Linked DNA regions of Homo sapiens. Each later gene encodes a partner of the first gene's protein in a complex. Each region holds a gene or a part of one and is shown on either strand. Other genes may lie near its edges. The genes, in order: SPTLC3 and SPTSSA.

Evidence for each region.
Region 2: SPTLC3 (region 1) and SPTSSA share a complex: the UniProt entries of both Homo sapiens proteins name them as parts of the serine palmitoyltransferase (SPT) complex.

The regions. Positions count from the first base shown.
Region 1 is NC_000020.11:13,165,972-13,169,603, reverse strand, and holds the end of SPTLC3 (serine palmitoyltransferase 3), read right to left. Parts: 3' UTR 501-3,632; downstream 1-500. UniProt on the Homo sapiens protein: Component of the serine palmitoyltransferase multisubunit enzyme (SPT) that catalyzes the initial and rate-limiting step in sphingolipid biosynthesis by condensing L-serine and activated acyl-CoA (most commonly palmitoyl-CoA) to form long-chain bases.
Region 2 is NC_000014.9:34,459,019-34,466,551, forward strand, and holds the start of SPTSSA (serine palmitoyltransferase small subunit A), read right to left. Parts: upstream 3,223-7,533; 5' UTR 3,190-3,222; coding exon 3,078-3,189; intron 1-3,077. UniProt on the Homo sapiens protein: Component of the serine palmitoyltransferase multisubunit enzyme (SPT) that catalyzes the initial and rate-limiting step in sphingolipid biosynthesis by condensing L-serine and activated acyl-CoA (most commonly palmitoyl-CoA) to form long-chain bases.

The DNA.
Region 1 (3,632 bases):
ACCTGCCCAAGGTAATGCCTGGCCCCACACCTCTACTGATAGCTTGCATCTGGCATCCTTGTCATTTTGACTTGACCCTAAAGGACCATCTCAGTTGCCCAGTTTCCATGGAATTGGCTGAGGCCTTTGCTATGATAACATCATAGTTCAAATTCTTCCTCTTTCCAATCCTGTTCCTTTACTCTTACGTTTGTATTGTACCATTGTAGGTGGTCTCAGTGGTGTGCTAGTAAATGTTTAACAGACAGCTCTCTAGAGCCCTGACTTGTAGTGTCTGCCAATTTCCATGGTGTAAATACTCCCATTGTGGCCAATTTCAAGCTACCAATCTGATGTCACTGAATGAGGAATTAGAAAGAAATGTGCACAATTAGTTCTTATCACAGTGCAAGCCAGCTCCAGCCACCCCTACCAATTTTCCCAGTGGAATTCCTAAATACAAATCTCTACCTCAGTCTTTTTTCAGGGTAACCTAAACTAAATCAACAGAAAACCATCAATTATTTTCATATTATTTTTATTTATTTTAAAACTAACATTTTACAGGCACAATAAAGTGAAATTGGTCGTTTCAAATGTTTCAGTGAAACATACATTTCTCTCTGTCCTTCTCACACACACAAAGACACATGCACACACACACACACACACATGCACACCCCACGTACATCAGGACACCATAAGACAATGTCCCGCAATAATTACCTAAAAATATTTAAAATACAGACTCTTTAATTTTCTAAACATTATGCAGCTGAGTAGGGCATTCTAAAGAACAGACTTCAAATTGTTCTTACTGTTTTGAGACCAGGAAACATTGCCAAGAATTCACCAGATGCTGTTCTTAATTGCTGTTGTTACAATTGTTATTATTGCTATAAATCAAAATGTATATTTAAGAGTTAATGTTTCATCATCATCGGAACTTAGGTTTTTAAATCAGAGTAGGCCATTTATAACATTTGCTATCTCTGAAGAAAAATACAAAAGAATATTGTTCGTTTGAAGAACTGTTAAGACTTTTACCCTACTGAAGAGCTGTTGTTGGAATAAATAATCAGAGGTTGAAGGTTGTTTTTTAAAGAGCAGGAAAAGAAAACAGAAGAAAGATACTACATTCAGGCCGGGCACGGTGGCTCACGCCTGTAATCCCAGCACTTTGGGAGGCCGAGGTGGGAGGATCACCTAAGGTCAGGAGTTCGAGACCAGCCTGACCAACAGGGAAAAACCTTGTCTCTACTAAAAATAGAAAATTAGCCATGCTTGGTGGCACATGCCTGTAAACTCAGCTCCTCAGGAGGCTGAGGCAGGAGAATCGCTTGAACCCGGGAGGTGGAGGTTGCAATGAGCCGAGATCTTGCCATTGCACTATAGCCTGGGCAACAAGAAGAACAAAACTCTGTCTCAAAAAAAAAAAAAAAAAGAAAGAAAGAAAAGAAAGATACCACATTCAAAGCAAATGGGCATCTTATAGGGAATGATACAGAAAACTGAAGAAGGCATAATTTTACCCAAATGAATCGCAGATGGTTCTTCAATATTGGATCAATTTTTGTAGAAAGAGAAGTTACTTGGAAAATGGGAACAAAATGTCCCAATGAGAAGAGAAGGTTGACTGTGGAATAAATTAATTTTACCAGTATATATACACTTAATTATGAACAAGAGAATCAGAACAAGGTTCCTGCTATTAGAGTCAATTGGTTTATCAAATTAGAGTTTGAATAATGTTCTTAAATTTTGGCATAGATTAGAATCACGCAGGAAGGCTGGTTAAAAATGTAGATTCCTGGGCACTACAACTATTATGTTTCAGTAAAGGTCTGGTGTAGGGCCTAGGGGTATGGATTTTAGCCAGCTTCCTAGTAAATTCCAAAGCCTGTCGTCTCTGTAAAATCAAAGCATGCTGAAAGGCAATATGGTTAAACGTCCATGACACCATCGTTTCATAATGAGATTAGGAATAAGTCTATGCCATTTCCTTATTATACAGAGATAGCCTCCTTACAAATATCATCTGGAACCTTTATCTTCTGCTTTCCTGAGGTCATTTTCAAGAACATCTTCCATTTATTTCTCAACCAACCAGATTTTCATAGTTGCTTACTCCGTAAAGGAAAAATGCATATGTGTATGTGTGTGTGCATGTGTGTAAATGTGAACAGAAGGGCTGAGTGCGCATAACATTATAGAAAATTCTCTTTTCCAACAGATCTAACCAAAGACACATTTTTGGCTCTGATATAATTAGAGCTAAGGTCGGGGCGGTGATGTAGAGGGTAATGGTTGATGATATAATTATCAAGACTCAATAATCAAATAATTTTAATCATGAATTAAAATCATGAATTAAAATCATGAACTTATTAGCCTAGCATTTGAGAGCTTTTTCTTAAAAAAATTAAAAATCTCATTATTCACAATCACCCTCCTAATTAACCTTATTCTATATGACATATACTCTAATATTATTGGCCCTGTGGAGCTTGGGCACCTTCTAATGCACTGTGGAAGCATTCTACTTGGATTATACCTGTATATCAACAGTTGTTCTCATACCTGTATATTCAACATGGACTCTCTAACAGAAACAGGTCCTTTTGTTTTGTACATTGCAGTGTAATAAATTGCCCCTGTACTCTTGAATCTTGATGAAAAGAGACTAACTTCCTCCCTGCCTTCCATGCTGGGTAGGTAAGTAGTTTCCCACAATGAATTAGACCCAATATCCTCCATGAAAGTAATAATAGTGGACATTCCTGCTCATGAAGACACATGTCTAGGGGCTTAAAACTTGAAGTGTAGATGTGAAGGTGTGTGTAAACATCACAGACAGATCCAGAAAGAAAGGAAGATGTTTATTGCTTTCCATACCTTGTGGAAGGACTAGATATCTCGCTGTCTTTTTGACCTCCTGTTTCCTTTATAGAACGCAAGGCATTTATGCATTTTGGACAATTCATTTAAATGCACATATTCAAGATAAGAACAGTATGTCTCCCTTTCTTTGCATATTTATGACACATTTTATTTGCACAAATAATACTGCATCAGTTTCATTGAGAAAAGTTGGAATTTTGTTATCAAAATCATTGGATGGGAAACTGCATTTTCAGAACCCACTTCTTTTCCTCTTTCACTAACGGTATTCCTTACAACTTGTAAACATTCATGAAGAACTCTATCATTGTGATCCATTTTTAAACCAATGCACCCACTTGGAGTTATAATTTCCCCATAAAAACTTTCCATGCTGATCACTTTTTTTCCTTTAATACGCTTTGAGCATCAGGGCACACTGCTCCATCCATCGCAGGCGCTGCGGGTGGAGTTTCTATCTCAGTGCACAGCATGAAAGCTTGGGTCCATCTGTGCCACACAAAACCAAGCCTCTCTTGAAGTGATTTGTTTACAGTGTCATTTGATGGAGTGGAATGTTCTGCAACTCATTCGAACTGTTACAGAAGCTTTGCTAAAAGGTCACCACTGCTCTCTAGAATTTCCAAATCTGGGCACCCTCTGGGAGCTTGTTAAAGATAAGGTTCTCCATGGGCTTTTTCCATACAAACTAGATCAGATTAACAAGAGGCTACTTTTCCATAGAGGTTTGTGTTCATGTTGAGAAGGAGAGC
Region 2 (7,533 bases), on another chromosome or scaffold:
CTCAGCCTCCCGACTAGTGGGATTTCAGGCGTCCACCACCACACTCGGCCCACAACTTCAAATTTTTAAAAATGCATTATATAGCAGGAAATGTAAACTAATGCATCTATCCTCTTTAAGAAATTAATCTGGGCCAGGCGCGGTGGCTCACACCTGTAATCCCAGCACTTTTGGGAGGCCAAGGCAGGCGGATCACTTGAGGTCAGGAGTTTGAGACCAGACTGGCCAACATGGTAAAACCACCCCACCCCCACCCCACCCCCAACTCCGCCTCTATTAAAAATACAAAAATTAGCTGGGCGTGGTGGTGGGCACCTGTAATCCCAGCTACCTCAGAAGGCTGAGGCAGGAGAATCGCTTGAATCCGGGATGCAAAGTTGCAGTGAGCCAAGATTGCACCACCACACTCCAGCCTCGGCAACAGAGCGAGACACCGTCTCAAAAAAAAAAAAAGAAAAAGAAAAAGAAGAAAATTAATCTGGCCAGGCGTGGTAGCTCATGCCTGTAATCCCAGCATTTTGGGAGGCTGCAGTGGGCAGATCACTTGAGGTCAGGAGTTCGAGACCAGCCTGGCCAACATGGCGAAACCCCATCTCTACTAAAAATACAAAAATTAGCCAGGCGTGGTGGCAGGCACCTGTAATCCCGGCTATTCTGGAGGCTGAGGCAGGAGAATCGCTTGAACCTGGGAGGCGGAGGTTGCAGTGAGCCAAGATGGCGACATTACACTCCAGCCGGGCAACAAGAACAAAACACTGTCTCACACACACACACACAAAGAAAAGAAATCAATCTGAAGTCTTCCTCTGTTCAGGACTTCTAACTCAGAGACAAATTTTCAGACAGGCAGAGGCAAATTTCTCTAAATTTTAGGTTTCTAGGATTGATGATTAAGTTGAATGTAATGTTTAAGCTGTAGAAAGTATGCCTCTTTCCAAAAGCCTGTAGCTGGCCACAGATTAGTTCTGGGTGAAGCTTACTAATCATTAATGGATTTATGAAATTCAAACTACTTCAGAGTAAGCCTCCTGACAAGTAGGGAAAAAAATCCAGTTTTCTCATTCAGTTCTTTCCACCAAGCTAAAATGAGGATTCAATCTCAAATTGATGTTCCAAACTATCAGATAGTTTTAAATGATTCTAGAAGTTGAAGTGGAAAAATATAAATACAACAGCTGATAGTAATTCAAGACTGGCTTATGTCAAACAATTGCATTTCTAACCTGAGTTAATTCAATAACGTGAAATTTGAAATAAGATTTTTTTATCTTAAGTTTAAAATCATAAGGTTCTATAATATTGGATGTCAGTTGGTTGCAGTTCTCACCTATTTGAAAAAAAAATTGAAACTACTTGTCGCTAAACCATGGTAACTCAAAAACATTAAAGGCAAATATCTACTAAGGCACTATATTTCATTTCATAATTTATTTCTCCATCCCCCAAAAAAGGCATCACCTAGTTATTTATAGGACACTATCACTATTGCAACATAACAGAAAAATCTTAACATCATTGATAACTGTAGCATTTTAGTGTGTAAAATCTATATTAGATTTTAGGTGTCAAATCTATACTAGATTCTAATAGTGCACTCTACATTCAACCTCTGATTTAAAGAGTTTCATTTTAACCCAGCATTGTTTAAATTAATTTTAGGATGTGTTATGTCAGTCAAGATATACTTGCTTCTACTGAGAGACTTCTATTAAATATGCATTCAAGTATATATTTTACAAGGCATGACCTTGCGAGCCCTAAAGAGTGAGACTAAACTGCAGCTACAAATAAATGGTGCAGGAAATCAAAGCAAACTATATTCAGAGTCTAAATCCAAAATATGCATTCTGGTTCTTAAATTCCAGGTTTGGAAAGAAATGCCAACAGTAATAAATAAATAAACTGCTTTGAAAGCATCTCAAATTCCTCAAAAGTGCTTAAACAAAAGACTCAGCTTTGAGTACAACCTTAAGCTATCTCAAAACAAATAAACACACTTGATAAGGCTTAGAATGAAATTACCTCAGTCACTCACTGGAATGCAACAATGCATTCGCAAAGTTATTCTGAAGTAAGCTACTCCAACTAAACCACACTGAAAAGGAGAGAACGTGGATAAACTAAACATGTTTTGTGAAATACCTGTTTTGTATTGGCCTGAGTTTTTTAAAAGTTACATCTCATTCATTATCAGTATTTAATCTGCAAGAATATCATCAAAGGATGTCAATATGGACAAGCAGAGACAAGAAACATCAGACTTTCAGGGAGCCTATCTTCACAACCCTGAGTTATTAACTGAAGTTCTCAAAGTTAGATGAGTTAAGATACAGACAACGTGCTTTGCACAAATGCTTTGCTTATAGTAACCACTCAATAGTCATTAACAAGAATTTATTAACTATCCACCAAAACACAGTTTCAAACCCTACCGACAACTAACCACAAATTGCACCACTTTTCGGGCCGACTTCTACGGACGGTGCACAGAAGCAATAAATACACTTTTAAAACTCCCCAACTTGAAGACCAAAAAGATACAATAACTTAAACTGCTTTCAAAAACTACTGGAGTGTCATGCCTACAAATTCAGAACCTGGCTTAAAAGCTAGTTAACTGACTAGAATTCTTGGTAGACCCAAAGCCAACTAAATCAGGAACACTTAAAGGTCAAAGGCGTCCAAGCCGGGAGCGATGTGCTCCACTGTTACATGATCCCCGCCTCCTACAGGAACAGGGGACTGAACCAAAGGCAGTTGCGGCCGAAGTGCAGGCGACACACAGGGTTACACATCACCTTCGGAGATTTCCTCCAGGAATCAAGACGCTTCCCCCTTGGGTCCAGCGACTCACAGGTGACCCCGGATCTCAAGAGTTCTCGTCTCCCCCACCCCCCACTTAACCCCGCGAGCGCCGCCCTCGGCCCCCAGACCTCCCCCTGCACCCCCGGCTTCCGCGCACAGGACCGGCGGGGCCGCCGCTCCAGCCTCCACCCCAGGCCCGGGGCCTGGGGAAATGCGGCCCCGCGGCCCGCGCCCCCAGCCCGGCCCCCGCGCGCGCGGCCGGGACAGGATACTGAACACCGTCCGCTCCCAGGGCTCCAGCATGTAGAGCGCCGTGACCAGCAGGTACTGGTAGTAGAACCAGGACATCTGCTTCCAGGCCCGCGCCAGCGCCATCCCCGCCATGCGCCTCCCGCGATGCAGCTCACACGTCAGTCTGTCCGGCCGGCCGCCCGCTCACGTCCTAAAGCCCCCGGCCGCCAGGCCCGCCCGCCCGCCACCCAGCGCCCATTGGCCCGCCCGGCCCCGCCGTCACCCGCGGCACGCCCAGACCCGCGCGCGCCCCGGCCGCCGGCCCCCAGCCCCGCCCGACCCGCGCTCATTGGCCAGGCCGCTACCTCGCGTCGCGTCGTCCCCTCCCGTTTCCCCGCCCGGGCATCGCCCACGCTAGCCGGAGAACGGTCCCCGCGAGAGCGCCCAGCCGCGCCCCACCCCGCCCGGGCCGGCCGGTGGTGGGCGGGGCGTCAGTGCCGGCCGGGGTCCCGGGGCCCCCGCAGCCCAGCGGGCGCTCGGTCCGTCCAGACTGGCCCAGAGCGCTTGCGGAAGAAATATTTCTGGAACACTTGTTATGCCTCAGGCATCCTTCTGAGAAGGAGGATTGCCAGGGAGAACCGGAATGCCTTCGGTTCCTTACCTTGTGCAGCTGGCGGCCTAGCTGGGAGACAAGCATTAATCAAGTCGTGATCCGTGTAAGAGGAGATAAGGGGCTGAGAGAGGGTGAGGAGGCGAACGCCACCTAATAAGGAGGTCTGGAAAGGCGTCCTTGTAGAAGGGATGCACATTCGGCCTCCTTCCTCCCTTCCCCCACCCATGCACACACACACACACACACACACACACACACACACACACACACACACCCCTAGACGGACATAACCCATGCACTCCCTAACCCAGAGACCACTTACCAAAAACATCTATCTGCCCACCTCTTAGTGGCTGTAGGTAACCACCAAGTGGGTCAAGGCCAGAAGCGCGCTGATCTAGTGGGTTCTGCAGAAGACAGGCAGCTTGAGATTGGTGTGAGGGCTGGTGATACTTCCCTAGAGATGCACTCCTGGATGCCCAGATTTTCCCACTGCCAGATGGGCCAGCAACATTGCACTGGCCACAAGGAGCTCCATGCACTGGTGTAGCATGTGAACTGCCACAATTAAATGGCCTGCTGTTTAAATGTTAAAAGTCTTCCAGGTTAAACATACTACTGCTTAAACTTTAAAAGTTTCATGGTTAATAACTATTCATTAAAAGTACCAAGTGCCGGCCAAGCGCCGTAGCTCATGCCTGTAATCCAAGCACTTTGGGAGGCTGAGGCTGGCGGATCACTTGAGTCCAGAAGGTCGAGACCAGCCTGAGCAACATGGTGAAACCCCGTCTCTACCAAAAAAAATAAGTAAATACATAACAAAAAGTTAGCCAGGGGTGGTGGCGTGCACCTGTAGTCCCAGCTACTCAGGAGGTTGAGGCGGGAGGATTGCTCGAGCACGGGAGGTCGAGGTTGCAGTGAGCCAGGATGGTGCCACTGCACTCCATCTTAGGTGGCAGAGCAAAAGAAAGGAAAGAAAGGAGACAGAGAAAGAGAGGAGAAAACAGAAGAGAAGAGAAGAAAAGAAAGAAAACAGTAAGTAATATCAAGTGCCAGACATTGGGATAGCAAGCCAGATAGACTGAGACCTGCCTTCATAAAGTACCCAGTCTGCTGGGGAAGAGAGGCAAGTTAATGGATTACAGTGAGGTGTGGTAAATGATATTTTTGTGGATCGTATCCTTTAGGATACCAAGATAGCCCAGACAAAATCAGATTGGGCTTGTGAAAGTCTTCTGAGAAATGGTGCTTGAACTGAGTGTTGAAGGACAAGCAGAAATGGAAGAATGAATGAGCTTGGGGAAGAGAGGGTGAGACAGACATTCTAAGGATGAAGTTGTGATGTTTTTAGAAGACTGGAAGAACTTCCATGTGGCTGGAGCAAAAAGAATGTATATGCAGTAGCAAGAGATGGGCCTAGACAGCAAACAGGGACCATATTCTGAAGGACCTTGTTTGAGAAGCTAAGAAATTTTTAACTTGATGTCCAAAAGTTACTGGAGCCAACAACTTAAATAAGATTTTCTTTCAGGGCTGGGTGTGGTGGCTCACACCTATAATCCCAGCACTTTGGGAGTCCAAGGCGGGTGGATCACATGAGGTCAGGAGTTCCAGACCAGCCTGGCCAACATGGTGAAACCCCGTCTCTACTAAAAATATAAAAAATTAGCCGGGCGTGATGGTGGGTGCCTGTAATCCCAACTATTTGGGAGGCTGAGGCAGGAGAATCGCTTGAACCCGGGAGGCGGAGGTCGTAGTGAGCTGAGATCACACCATTGCACTCCAGCCTGGGCAACAAGAGCAAGACTCCGTTTAAAAAAAAAAAATGCTTTCGGAACAAGACTTGGGTGTGGGTAGTAGCCTGGAGGCTACCGAGGGAAAAAACAGGTTGGGAAGACATTACAAAGGTAGAACCCACAAATACTTGAAACCTCCTTACCCCTCAGAGATGCAGGTACACGTGCCCTCCTACTTTCAAACTTAACTGTTTTGGACTTCTTTCTGTCCCTGTTCCTGTTCAGGCACAGGCAAGCTCATTCCTTTTTCCTCGAGAACTCCAACTACCCTCAGCATCTGGTGATGCTACATAAAATTCATCCAAGATTGGAAGCATCACCCGTAGCCACCCTTCCTTTACTGGGTCCACTCCCTAGCACCATGTCTGCCAGGTGGTTGTCCTCACTGTTAGTAGCTCCCAATCCACTGCGTGTCTCTCGGAGACCAGCTCTACCACCTCATCTCACTAAAGTTGGTGACTGACTAGAAATGAGGAAAAGAGGCTGAGATCCTGGATGATGACAATACAAAGAAACCGAAGGAAGACGTTTGGCTGAAAAGATATTGATTTTGTTAGGATGAAGCTATGTCTGAGGTACCTGAGGGACACTTAAATGGAGGTGTCCAGGGGACAATTGAGCACATGGTTTGGAACTCAGAAGTGAAGCCTGAATGGAACTAGAGGCATATGAATTTTCAATATGTCCCTGGTCATTGAAGCCAGAAGAGCAGATGAGGTCACCCAAGGAAAGCACATAGAATGGGAAGAGCAGGGTACAGAATAAACCCAGAGATTCTGGCATTTGGCCAATGAGAGTCCAAAGGAAGCCAATACAGGGAAGGAGCTACCTGAGATTTGACAGCAATGAGGAGAGACATACAGGAGAAGCTAATGGAGGAAGGGATAGCCAGCAGAACAAATGGCTCAGGGAGGATAAGCAAAATAAGGAAGGGAAGCGCCAATTTGTTTTGTCCACATGGGGCTAGATTGATGACTCAGCATTTCATTGTGGAATGATGATAGGACAGAAGCCGGATTATAGAAGGCTGAGGAGAGAACAGGAAGTAAAACAATGAGGACAGTTAATTCAGGCTTAGTTTTGCAGGAAGCTTGCCTGTGAAGGGAAGGAGATAGAATGGTGGCAAGGGTTTCAGTTTGGTTTCATTTTCAGATGGGAAAGGAGTAAGCAAGTTTATGGGCTTAGAGTAAAGATATGGATAAAGATGGTGGGCTGGGGGACCAGATCCAAAGCCTTAATAAACAGGAACTGGTAGCTCTTTCCCCAAGAGGAGGAGGATGGAAAGATGGGAGCCAGATGGACATAAACACAGACAAGTAAGTTAAGGAACTCCCTACCTTACAACATCAGTTTTCTTAGTGAAAAAATAAAGGCCTCTTGTTGAGAGTGAGCAAGATGTTGAAGAGTGGAGGGTATGAAAAAGAAAAAGGGAGATGGGAGAAGTTTCCTAAAGCTGCCTAAGGATTGTCAGGCAGAAAAACCATACAGTTTTTACCAACAATACACAAGTACCGAGTATATATAGAACTAGAGAAGTTGAATTAGGAGACTTCCTCCAAGGCAGGGTTTGCTGGATGGATACAATGGAGAAACAAGCAAGAAGGTTGATGGAGAGAGAATAATTGAAATAATGACTAGGAGAATTAGGTCACGGAGGGAAGTAAATGATGAAAAGATAAAATGGAGTAGTCCAGAGCTGTGTGAGGTTGGAAACTGTAGGAGTAGGTGCATGGGAAAGAGTCTATGTTGGAGGAGGAGGGCCACGGCTGTGCTTCTGAAGCTTAGGAGTACAGAAATAGGCCAGTCTTAGACAATGACCAGGCACAGGTTGTGACCATGGGATAGGCAGCTAAAGTGGAGTGGAGGGGATAGTAAAGACCACAGGAAAGATAAAGTTGTCCAGGATGATGGCAGAACTAAGTGTCGAGAGGAAAAGTCTGTAAAGCAAATGTCAAAGTCTTCAGTGAGCATAGAGGAAAACTCAGGAGACAGGTGGATGAAGGGGGCAAAGCCCAGTGGCACATGGTTTTGGTTAGGAGGCAGTACTGGAGAGCAAGAAGAAAGCCAATCCCGCCCCACCCCCAGTCC